Regions from separate parts of the Homo sapiens genome. Here region 2 is linked to region 1. The links come from fine-mapping of genetic effects on gene expression. A gene starts in region 1. The other region holds a variant in brackets. All regions are shown on one strand. Distances are between the middles of the regions. Region 1 holds the start of TMEM106A (transmembrane protein 106A). Region 2 holds the start of VAT1 (vesicle amine transport 1).

What was found.
Region 2: its variant is fine-mapped to the expression of TMEM106A in monocytes after LPS (Quach 2016, PIP 0.95).

Annotation. Positions count from the first base shown.
Region 1 is chr17:43,209,145-43,214,515 of GRCh38, reverse strand. TMEM106A (transmembrane protein 106A) reads right to left here and starts at 2,641. Exons shown (of 9, transcript NM_145041.4): 1 at 2,594-2,641; 2 at 2,122-2,289; 3 at 1,264-1,495; 4 at 625-688. The coding sequence starts at 1,474. It overlaps NBR1 (NBR1 autophagy cargo receptor), which reads right to left. Exons shown (of 21, transcript NM_005899.5): 21 at 2,828-4,615. The coding sequence ends at 4,442.
Region 2 is chr17:43,017,743-43,023,113 of GRCh38, reverse strand. It overlaps VAT1 (vesicle amine transport 1), which reads left to right and starts at 729. Exons shown (of 6, transcript NM_006373.4): 1 at 729-1,178; 2 at 4,315-4,522; 3 at 4,908-5,078; 4 at 5,184-5,273. The coding sequence starts at 792. The variant C/A (reference allele first, on the strand shown) is at 2,650.

The sequences.
Region 1 (5,371 bases):
ATCCCAGAACAGCGGACAATAGGTTTTTCATCTCTACTAGAAGAAAAACAAGCAAATCTGAACTGCCTCAGCAAGGGAGGTGCTTAAGAAAAATAACATTTTCAAATCAATTGCAGCCAGGGCCACATGCTTGTTCCCTCCTTCCTGGGAGGACTTGCAGAGCTACCAGATCCTTCCTGTCTTGGAGAGGGGGCCATGCTTTCTGGAAGCAGTGATGCTTAAGGAAGCCCACCAGGTGGCCTCAAGTGACATCTGCTGTGCCCACAGCTGCTGCTTTTTTCTTTCTTTCTTTCTTTTCTTTTTTTTTTTCTTTTTTTTTTTTTTTTTGATAGAGATGGGGTTTCACCATGTTGCCCAGGCTGGTCTTGAACTCCTGAGCTCAAGTAATCTGCCTGCCTTGGCCTCCCAAAGTGCTGGGATTACAGGCATGAGCCACCACACCCGGTCCAGGAGCTTCTAAATCAGGAAAAAATCCTTGGACGTAAGGAGCTGGTACCTCTGAGGCTCAGGCTTTCTATGGAAGAACTAATAGGAAGAAATTAAGGGAGATCAAAACAGGGGAGACAAAGGGAGCAGCCCCCAGGGGCAATGGCTTGTGAAGCTAGGGGAGGAAGGGGGGCTTACGTGTGCTTGGGCTTCAGCCTCTGGTCCCCATAGGGAATGAGAGCCACCAACTGCTTCTCCAGCTCTAGAGAGAGAGAAGGTGAGAGGGAGGGCCAAGATGCAACTGTGACAAATATTTACTGTGCCAGCTTCCCAGAAGCACGCCTCCACCCACACCATAGAGCAATGTTAGAAACATGCCACATCTGCCCCAGAGCAGGACTGGAAGCACTGGACTCTGCTACCAAAGTTGGCAGCTCAGCTTTGCCATCTCTAGAATGGAAGTGAGATTTCCACTAATAGGTATGAAGAATCTCTGAAAGTCACCAGCAAATCAGAGATGCCCAGCATCTTTGGAAAGTTCATTTGTAACTTCCTGAACTGAATGAATCCTAGGACACACAGTGTTGCTCAGAAGCACAGTGGCTAGAATCCTTCTTTCCCACAAGGGGCTGGAGAATACAACCAGGGAAGGAGGGCAGGTTTTTGCAGGGAACCCAAGGATAGTTAAGTATCTCCCTGGCCAGCCTGAGACTGGGAGGTCAAGAGCTGGGAGCAGATCTAACCCCATCCAAGGAGACTCAGAGGGGCTGCCCCAGGCCAACAGGCTAAGAACTTTCCCTGGATTCCAGGCTATTTCCAGAGCCTTGGGCCACTCACCTTGGGGAATCTTGCCACTGCCCTGGCAGGTGGGACAAGTCACGAAGCTGGCATCAGCAGTTCCTTCACAAGGCACACAGGAACAAAAAGACTTGCTGCTACCGGTGCTGGAGTAGTTGACAGCCTTGCTGCCAATGGCTGGTTTGGAGGACAGGATTGACTTGTTCTCATCCTCCCGCCAAGAGCCCAGCTGGGAAAACGTCTTACCCATTCTTCAGGGGCGGGGGTTTCACTAATGAGAAAAGACCAAAGTTCAGTGCTAAGCTTGTTAGCACTGACGCCAGATGTAATTTTGGTTTGAAGTTCTCAAGACTGGCAAGGAGCTTCACCACAGTTTAAGCAAGCTCAAGCCTAAGGAAGATAGGATGTGAAAAACTGGGTGGTCACATGGGACTCTCAGAAGTCTCAATGCATTTCGACTCCTTTCATTATTTTAAAAGAGACCAATCTGCCTACAAAAGGGAAAACAAAAGAAAAGCAGAAGTTACTTCACTTTAAGGAACTTCCATAAGTGATTGTCAGAGCATTTAATTTTTCTCTGGAAAAGTTGCTGAGCTGTCATTCAGTTTAAGGGAAGGAAGTTGGATAGGGCAGAAAAGAGATTCTTTGAATCAAGGAGAGAGGAGGCCAGACTGGTCACAGGTGTGGTTAAGACCCCTATCTAAAGAAGCCCTGGGAGAAAGCAGACACCTCACTGCTTTCTGAGGCGGGGTAAGAAAGCCTGAGGAGGGTCATAGTGATACCAGGGTCTGTCTTTCACTAGGAAAACTCAAGGCTAAATCTGGACTCTGTGTGACAGAACGAGGCCGGCAAGTGAGCCACACAGATCTTTCTGGGCTAAAATATAGGGATGCTCACCTTGTTCAGGTCTGGGATCCCAGGCTCCTCAGCCGCACGAGGGCGAGACTTCTGGAGTGCGTCTTTGGGGAGAAGGGCCTCTAAGGGCAGAGTGGGCTGGGCTGGGCTGAGCTGAGCTGGGCGGTGGTGGGGAGAAGCACCGCCTGGGGCCGGCAACCGGCCGGAGTCCTAGGGGAACGAATGTGCCGCACTGGAGAGTGGGGATAGTAAGGACGCTGACCTCCCCGAAGGGCCAAGCCGATTCCTGGGCTACATGGGGGCTCTGCCATGGGCCGACCGGGTGGAAGCGGACGGAGAAGGTGTGACTTCATTAAGGGAGGATTTCAAGTCCCACCACACACCCCTAGAGGCCGTTAGTCAAGCTTGGTACCCGTGCGGGGGGCGCCTGTGTGTTGGGCGAGGAGGCGGCAACAGGAGGTGTCTTGACCTCCGAAAGGTAAAGTAGGTATAAAGGGTCTAGGGAGGGCCTTACCCGCGGACGACTGCAGCGACAGAAACGGAAGAGAGTGGAATCGAAAATGCGGGAGCGAACACTCCCCTCAAGCTTTGACTCAGTGCCCAGGGAAGTCCCGCCCCAGCCCCTAAGGGCCCACCCCCCCGTCCCCCGGTCCGCCCCTTCGCCACGCAGCAGCCTGAGACGCTGCCAGCTCTTCAAACGTTACCCGAGGGCCCGGACGCTGCTTCCGCAAGGACTAGCCAGTCCGGGTAGGAATTTCCAAGAACATTTATTTCACCATTCTTTAGGTGGTTATGTACAAGTACATACATAACCAGGAGAGCAACCCGGGCCCTCCTGGCCCTCGATTATAAAACTCCGATGGTCAAGACAGGTCCCACCCATCAACCCAATTACACCCTGCCGCTCCACCTTCTACCCGGAAGCCCCGATTAAAACGTTTTAAATAATGAACGGCCTGGCTGGCTTGCAGTTTGAATCCTGGTTTATTTAAGTAGCATTCAGGAGTTATACTGTAAATAAACATCATTATGGCTAATGACTAATTAAAATCACCATTCATTACAAATACCAACCAGGTTAGATAATACTATTAACTATCTTTTCCCCTTCGGTCTGGGGTTCATATTCTTCCTTTTCTGGAAGTCATTTTCATGGATAAAATATTTAGCATTTTTTGTTACCTCTTCCTTCACCAACTGTACTCAACACACTTCTGTAAACAGAGTGAGAACCTGGGTTCATGGACAAGCTCTTTTCCACTTATCTTCGGGTTAAACCAAAACTTTTTCAGCAACTTTGCCCCTGTCCAAGTTTTGCAGAACACCAGCTGCCTCTTCCTGTTCTAGGCATTCTAGGGCTAGATACCTGTGAACGGACTTCAAGCATTAAAGAAGTCATCAGCATTTCCTATACCTCACACACACTCATTTGCCCACCCTGAACTTCACTGACATTAATTTAGGAGCCTGCCTTTTGCCTTTCACATGTTTCTATTTCCCCCACTGTACTGTAAAATAAGATCTGCCCTGACATTAAGAAAAAAGGCAACTGTTAAATTTACTTTTCCCTTTAAATAACGGGATTTTTTCCTTTTCTATAAGATTAGCAAAATATTTCACAATACCTATATTTTTTCCCTTAAATAAAAATGTATGCAAAATTACTATAATAGACATTGCTCAATAGGTGCTGGTAGGTTTATCAGCACACTCTTCCTCCTTTCATTGAAATGCGGAGATTCCCTTGAAGTTGGATACTCTTGAATGCACCATGGAGTCTTTAGAAAGCAACGGTGCCAATTATTAAGTATTGCAGGAAAATTACTTTCTCCTTGAGAGAGGAAGAGTAACAACATTTCTATCATGCTCTGGGTGTTATTTCAATGCCAAATAACTATGAAGCTTGAGGTGGATTACAGAAATTATGAGAATAAGAATTATGAGAATAATTCTTAAAAACAACTTCCGAGGTTAATGTCTTTCAAAACCTGAAAATTAACAGATATCCCCATAAAAAATCCACATTAGCCAAAGAAAAATACTCAGTTTCAATAAAAGCAGAAAGAAAAATGGTTCTATATGAAGTTGAAGTTACACTTGTCAATGCACTAAAATAGTTTTATCCAAATCAACTGAAAAACTGTCTTCATACTATTCATCCAATGTCTAAAGTGAAAATTTAAGTTCTGGTCTTTAGTTTGCTCCCCAAAATACTGTAGCAGGTATTGTCTTGGTAACTCAACGATGGGCTCTATACAGATTCATCAGATTAAAAATAAGCAAGGGCTTCTATCCCATACCCCAATGACAGAATAAAGATCATCTCTGAGCAGCAGGCAGTTATTTAATACAAGGTCACTCCTCAATAGCGTTGGCTGTACCAGTCGTTGTTGTTTAACTGAAGAAGTTCTGTCACAACCTGCAGGATATTGTAATTGTGTTTCTTCAGCAGCCGTAGGTTCAGCTGCCTGTCACAGAATCCCATTTCAAAGAGATGGGCCATCAGGGCTGCTGTCTGATCTTCAGAAATTATTGGCTGTGTAGAGACAAGCAAAGCAAAAAAAAAAAAAAAAATTCTGTATAATTTAAATGTTTATTTTATACATTTGTATCATCTTGCAAGCATACTAGTCTTTCCAGATTTATTCAAAGTACTAGGTAATTAGATTCAAGGCTATGGCACTCCTGTGTACTTGATACCAACGGTTCGGACTGGGAAGGCCCTATTTTAGATTAGTTATCTGTGTACTTGAAGGAGGAGAAAAGGGAAACCGGGGAGCTAATGAACTGTACTTAGAACCAGGAGAATGCTTCACTCGGGGCTTTCAGGAAGAAGCATTTTTTGGCCAGATGAAGGAATGACAGCAAGCCCCAGAGACCCTGTGAACATAAGTGTAATTGTGATGATGGGGGAAGTATGAGCAAGATAAAAGTGTTACTGAAAGATGCTATGGGAAATTTTGTCAGATATGCAGAGGAGCTGGACAAAAAAAACAGCTTGGGAAATTACAACCTGGGAAGGCTTCTTGATTTTTTCTCCTCCAAAAGAATAGGTAAGAGGGGCTGGGTGCGGTGGCTCACACCTGTAATCCCAGCACTTTGGGAGGCTGAGGCGGGCGGATCATGAGGTCAGGAGATTGAGACCATCCTGGCTAACACAGTGAAACCCCATCTCTACTAAAAATACAAAAAATTAGCCAGGCGTGGTGGCAGGCGCCTGTAGTCCCAGCTACTCGGGAGGCTGAGGCAGGACAACGGCGTGAACCCAGGAGGTGGAGCTTGCAGTGAGCCG
Region 2 (5,371 bases), 190 kb after region 1:
CCTGGGTTCAAGCAATTCTCCAGCCTCCGCCTCCCTAGTAGCTGGGACTATAGGCACCTGCCACCATGCCTGGCTAATTTTTGTAGTTTTAGTAGAGCTGGGGTTTCACCATACTGGTCAGGCTGGTCTCGAATTCCTGACCTCAGGTGATCCACCCACCCGCCTCGGCCTCCCAAAGTGTTGGGATTACAGGCGTGAGCCACGCCGCCCGGCCCTTTTTTTTTTTTTTTTTAACAGGGTCTCACTCTGTTGCCCAGACTGGAGTGTAGTGGCGCGATCTCGGCTCACCTCCGCCTCCCAGGCTCAAGCGATTCCTCTGCCTCAGCCTCCCAAGTAGCTGAGATTACAGGCGCGCGCCACTACCGCCCGGCTAACTTTTTTATTTTTAGTAAAGACGGGGGTTTCACCATGTTGGCCAGGCTGGTCTTGAACTCCTGACCTCAAATGATCCACCAGCCTCGGCCTCCCAAAGTGCTGGGATTACAGGCGTGAGCCACCGCGCCAGGCCTATCCCTTAAAATAGTTTTTAATTTGAATAAGGTTTACTATGAATAAATAAATCACAGTCGGCTTGATCCCAAGAGCACAGACGTTCCTGGTGCCCCTTTTCGTGCTCTCCCAGCTTGCGCCACTATGGCCCTGGCCCTTTAAGGCTGAGCGCGAGGCCCCGCCTCGCCCGGCGCCCCGCCCCTCCCGCTGGATCCCGCAGCCGCGGCTCTTCCCGACGCGTTCCGCCTTCCCCAGCTGTGCACTCTCCATCCAGCTGTGCGCTCTCGTCGGGAGTCCCAGCCATGTCCGACGAGAGAGAGGTAGCCGAGGCAGCGACCGGGGAAGACGCCTCTTCGCCGCCTCCGAAAACCGAGGCAGCGAGCGACCCCCAGCATCCCGCGGCCTCCGAAGGGGCCGCCGCCGCCGCCGCCTCGCCGCCACTGCTGCGCTGCCTAGTGCTCACCGGCTTTGGAGGCTACGACAAGGTGAAGCTGCAGAGCCGGCCGGCAGCGCCCCCGGCCCCTGGGCCCGGCCAGCTGACGCTGCGTCTGCGGGCCTGCGGGCTCAACTTCGCAGACCTCATGGCTAGGCAGGGGCTGTACGACCGTCTCCCGCCTCTGCCTGTCACTCCGGGCATGGAGGGCGCGGGTGTTGTGATCGCAGTGGGCGAGGGAGTCAGCGACCGCAAGGTGAGCGGGTTGCGTAGGGCAGGGCAGGGCTGCGCAGGCCACTGGGCAGTGGGGCACGAGTGGGCGAGCGCCGGGGGTGTGGCAGGGCGGGAGAAACTGGCGCGGACCTGGGTGCACGAGCGTGGAAAGCGTAGCCAAGGAACTTGTGTTTGGGGGCTCCTGGAGAGCGGCATTTATGTGGGGAGGGGAGACGAAATTATCGCCCCTTCCCCAACCATTTTTAGTTGTGGCCGCCGCCCAGAAGCTGTGCTGGTGGGGGGGAAAACAATAAGGTGCCCATGCGCATGCGCACAACCACACTACCGTCCCCACCCCCCCCCCCCCCCCCCATTAAAACCACACCTGTACCCCTACCCACCAAACACTCTCTGGGTAATTGTGGTCTGTGACTATGAGTGACGGTTAGTGCCCCCTTTCCCCGAGGGAGCTTGAGGGGCTATGTCGTCGGGGTTGGGCGGGGGCACAGCGGCCGTGCCAGAGTCCTGGTCACATGCAGCCCCGTGGTCTGTGGGGGTGTGAGGCGGCCCCTCCCAAAGCAAGGCCAAAGAGACGAGACACGCCCATCACGGAGGAGAGAGAGCCTTTGCTACCCCACCGCCACCAGCCTTACACCGCCGATCTGATTTTGGGGTGGGGGAGGCGGGATTGGGTCATCCGATCTTTGTCTTGGGCTCTGTGTCTCCCGTGACTGCAGTATCTCCTCCTCCTGTGACTCAGCCCTCAGCCTTCGGGCCACGACCCGGGGCTGCCCTTGGGAATGCCTGGGGCGGGGAGTGGAAGGGGGGACCCACCTCTGCCTTCCTCCTGCAGAGGACCCCCACTTCAGAAACCCCAGTGCCAGGGGTTTGGACTGGAACGGAGAGGTGCGGCGCCTTGAACTGGTTGGCCAAGTCTGCAGGCCTGTTTCTCCTTCTCATTTATCATTAATCTTGGCCACAACCCTGGACACCAGAGAGCTCAAAATGATCAGCTTTTTGAGAGACCTGGGATGAGGCCTCAGCACGCCATTTGTTTAGAGGTTTCTTTTTTTTTTCTTTTTCTTTTTTTTTTTTTTTTTTTTTAGACGGAGTTTCGCTCTTGTTGCCCAGGCTGGAGTGCAATGGCGCGATCTCGGCTCACCGCAACCTCTGCCTCCCGGGTTCAAGCGATTCTCCTGCCTCAGCCTCTCGAGTAGCTGGGATTACAGGCATGCGCCACCATGCCTGGCTAATTTTGTATTTTAGTAGAGATGGGTTTCTCCATGTCGGTCAGTCTGGTCTCGAACTCCCGACCTCAGGTGATCTGCCCACCTCGGCCTCCCTAAGTGCTGGGGTTACAGACATAAGCCACTGCGCTTGGCCAGGAGTTTCCTTTTTAAATCAGACCCCTCAATGAGAGGCCCCACAGATGCAGCCTCTTGCAGACCTGCCAGCCCAATTCTGGAGCCAGGTTTGTTGGATTCATCCTGTATGCAAACAGCTTCTCCTTAAGG[C/A]TTTCCTCTGAATTCAGCTCTGGCCCCACCCTCAAACTGACTTCTAAATGATCCCACTCTTGAGCAGGCGTCTAAGAGGAATATTTTCGGGAGGTAGTTGTAGTTCATGTTACTGCTGAAGGCCACCCACCTCACCTCCCCTCCATACACTTTCCGCCTGGTAAATACAGGATATCCTGTCCAGGGCAAGAATCTGATGTAAGAGCCTGGATTCTGCGGGGAGGGCCCTTCCCTCTCTCTCCCTCCTCCTCCTTCCTGGTGTCTGGGTTGGGGAGGGGTCATGGCCCTGATTTGGATGGCCTGAGGGTTAGCATGAGCCAGGGTAAGTGAGACTTGTTCTGGGTCAAATCTGGGACTGGCCATGACCCTAAATGACCAATGCACTCCTCGCAGCTCTCCTGGGTTGTTCTGTATCTGCTAGTCCTGAGTCCCTGGGTGGAGGGCTTCCGTTCTTGTTCTCCAGACCTCATCTCAGGCCAGAACTTGGAAGGAAAGACCCCAGCATGCCCTCAGTTCTCGTATTCAGTGGAGTGTGGGGGCTTGAGGACATGAAAAAGGGCGTAAGTGGCAGTCCCATCCCCCTTCCCCATGGACCCTAACTCTTGTTAATATACAGAATTCCCATCATTCCTGGCAGGGATCAAGACAGACCCAGATTGTCCCAGAACAGCACCCACACCTCCCTCTTCATGCTCTTCAGAGAGCGCAGAGAAGTCTTTTCTCCTGACGCTCCCTCCTTTTCCCTGCCCTTCCCTTGACCCCACTTGCTAAGCTGGAGAGAAAGGTTCTGTTATCTTTGTCCCCTTTCCCTCCTGCACAGAGGCTCTCGTGGGGGTGGGGGGGAAGCCTTTTACTGCTGCGTAGGCCTCTGTAGCCCTTCTTGTCTGTTGCCCCTCCTGCACCATCTCTGAGTGAAGATGTTTTCTGGGCTCCCAGTGCTGGCTCAAACACACTTCTCCCGAGGTGACCACACCCTGCTGTAAGCGCTCAGAGAACTTTGCCTGCACTTTGGTATGGCCCTGACCACACAGTGCCGTCTTCTTTTGGTTGTGTGACTTCCTTGCTGCTATTATATTATTATTATTATTATTGTTAGCTAACATTATTAAGTGCTTATTATGTGCCAGACATTGTGCTAAAATTTTTTTTTTCCATTTGGAAAAACTGCCCTAATTGACAGATAAGAAAACTGGAGCTGGAAAAGTGGAGCTCAAAAAGATTAAGTAATTTTTATGCATCCGAAGTCACACAGTCAGTAAACAGTTGAGACCGCTTTTGTAACCACAGCAGTTTGATCTTTTCCACAATACTTCATGCTGCCCTAACTGTAAGCTTCTTGCATTCAGGGATCTTACACAATAGTGACATGTAAGATCTGTAAGAAGATGATAAGGATAGTATCTGCCTCAAAGAACTGATGTAAGGGTTAATTAAGCATTATATATAAAGCACTTGAAATCGGGCTCGGCCCTCAGTCAGCACTCAGTAAAGGTGAGTTGTTATTGTTGTTGATGATGATGTTATTATTATTATTATTACCATGACTATTGCTGCTTCTCCTGCTACTTCATTTGGAAGAAGGTAGCCTTGTACCTAGGGGGAAATCAGTAAATAGCCTGTGGGTGAATGAATGAGTGACTGAATGATACTCTTCTGTTCTTCAAGGCAGGAGACCGGGTGATGGTGTTGAACCGGTCAGGGATGTGGCAGGAAGAGGTGACTGTGCCCTCGGTCCAGACCTTCCTGATTCCTGAGGCCATGACCTTTGAGGAAGCTGCTGCCTTGCTCGTCAATTACATTACAGCCTACATGGTCCTCTTTGACTTCGGCAACCTACAGCCTGGCCACAGCGTCTTGGTACACATGGCTGCAGGTGACAGGTCCCCTCACTTTATCACCCCTTACCCCACCCAGATTTCCTTCCAGGCCCCTTCCCTGCAGCCTGTCTGGGTTGTTGTCATGGCAACACCAGGCTGCCTTGGCCTGTGGCTCCCAGAGGCCTCTGCTGTGTAGTTGCCGTGGTAACATTCAGGCACCAGGTCTAGTCTGGTGTGCTATCCTTAGCAACGTGCCCTCACCCCACACCCCCACCTCTCTAGCTACCTTCCCCACCACTTCTCAGTCATGGAAATTAGACACGGCCCTAAAATGAGCGTAGGCAAAATGAAGGTGACAGGCTGAGTCCCTGGGAGGCTAGAATGGAGTGGTTGGTGGCCAGGGCAACTCCATATCCCCTGCTTATGGGTGTCTTGCTGCAGGGGGTGTGGGTATGGCTGCCGTGCAGCTGTGCCGTACAGTGGAGAATGTGACAGTGTTCGGAACGGCCTCGGCCAGCAAGCACGAGGCACTGAAGGAGAATGGGGTCACACATCCCATCGACTATCACACGACTGACTACGTGGATGAGATCAAGAAGATTTCCCCTAAAGGTGGGGGGCATAATATGGGAGGGGGTAGGGAGGCACAGGACAGGGAGGGGAGCTCCAGATCTGTGGATCCTAATGTTGTTCTTGGGTTCCCCTACTCTATGACAGGAGTGGACATTGTCATGGACCCTCTGGGTGGGTCAGATACTGCCAAGGGCTACAACCTCCTGAAACCCATGGGCAAAGTCGTCACCTATGGTGAGTTAGTGGGCCAGGGATGGAGAGAGCATGTGAGGGCAGGAGGGAGGGTCTAAGGGGTGGGATATAGAGGCCAGGGCTTTTGAATGAAGAAGGGG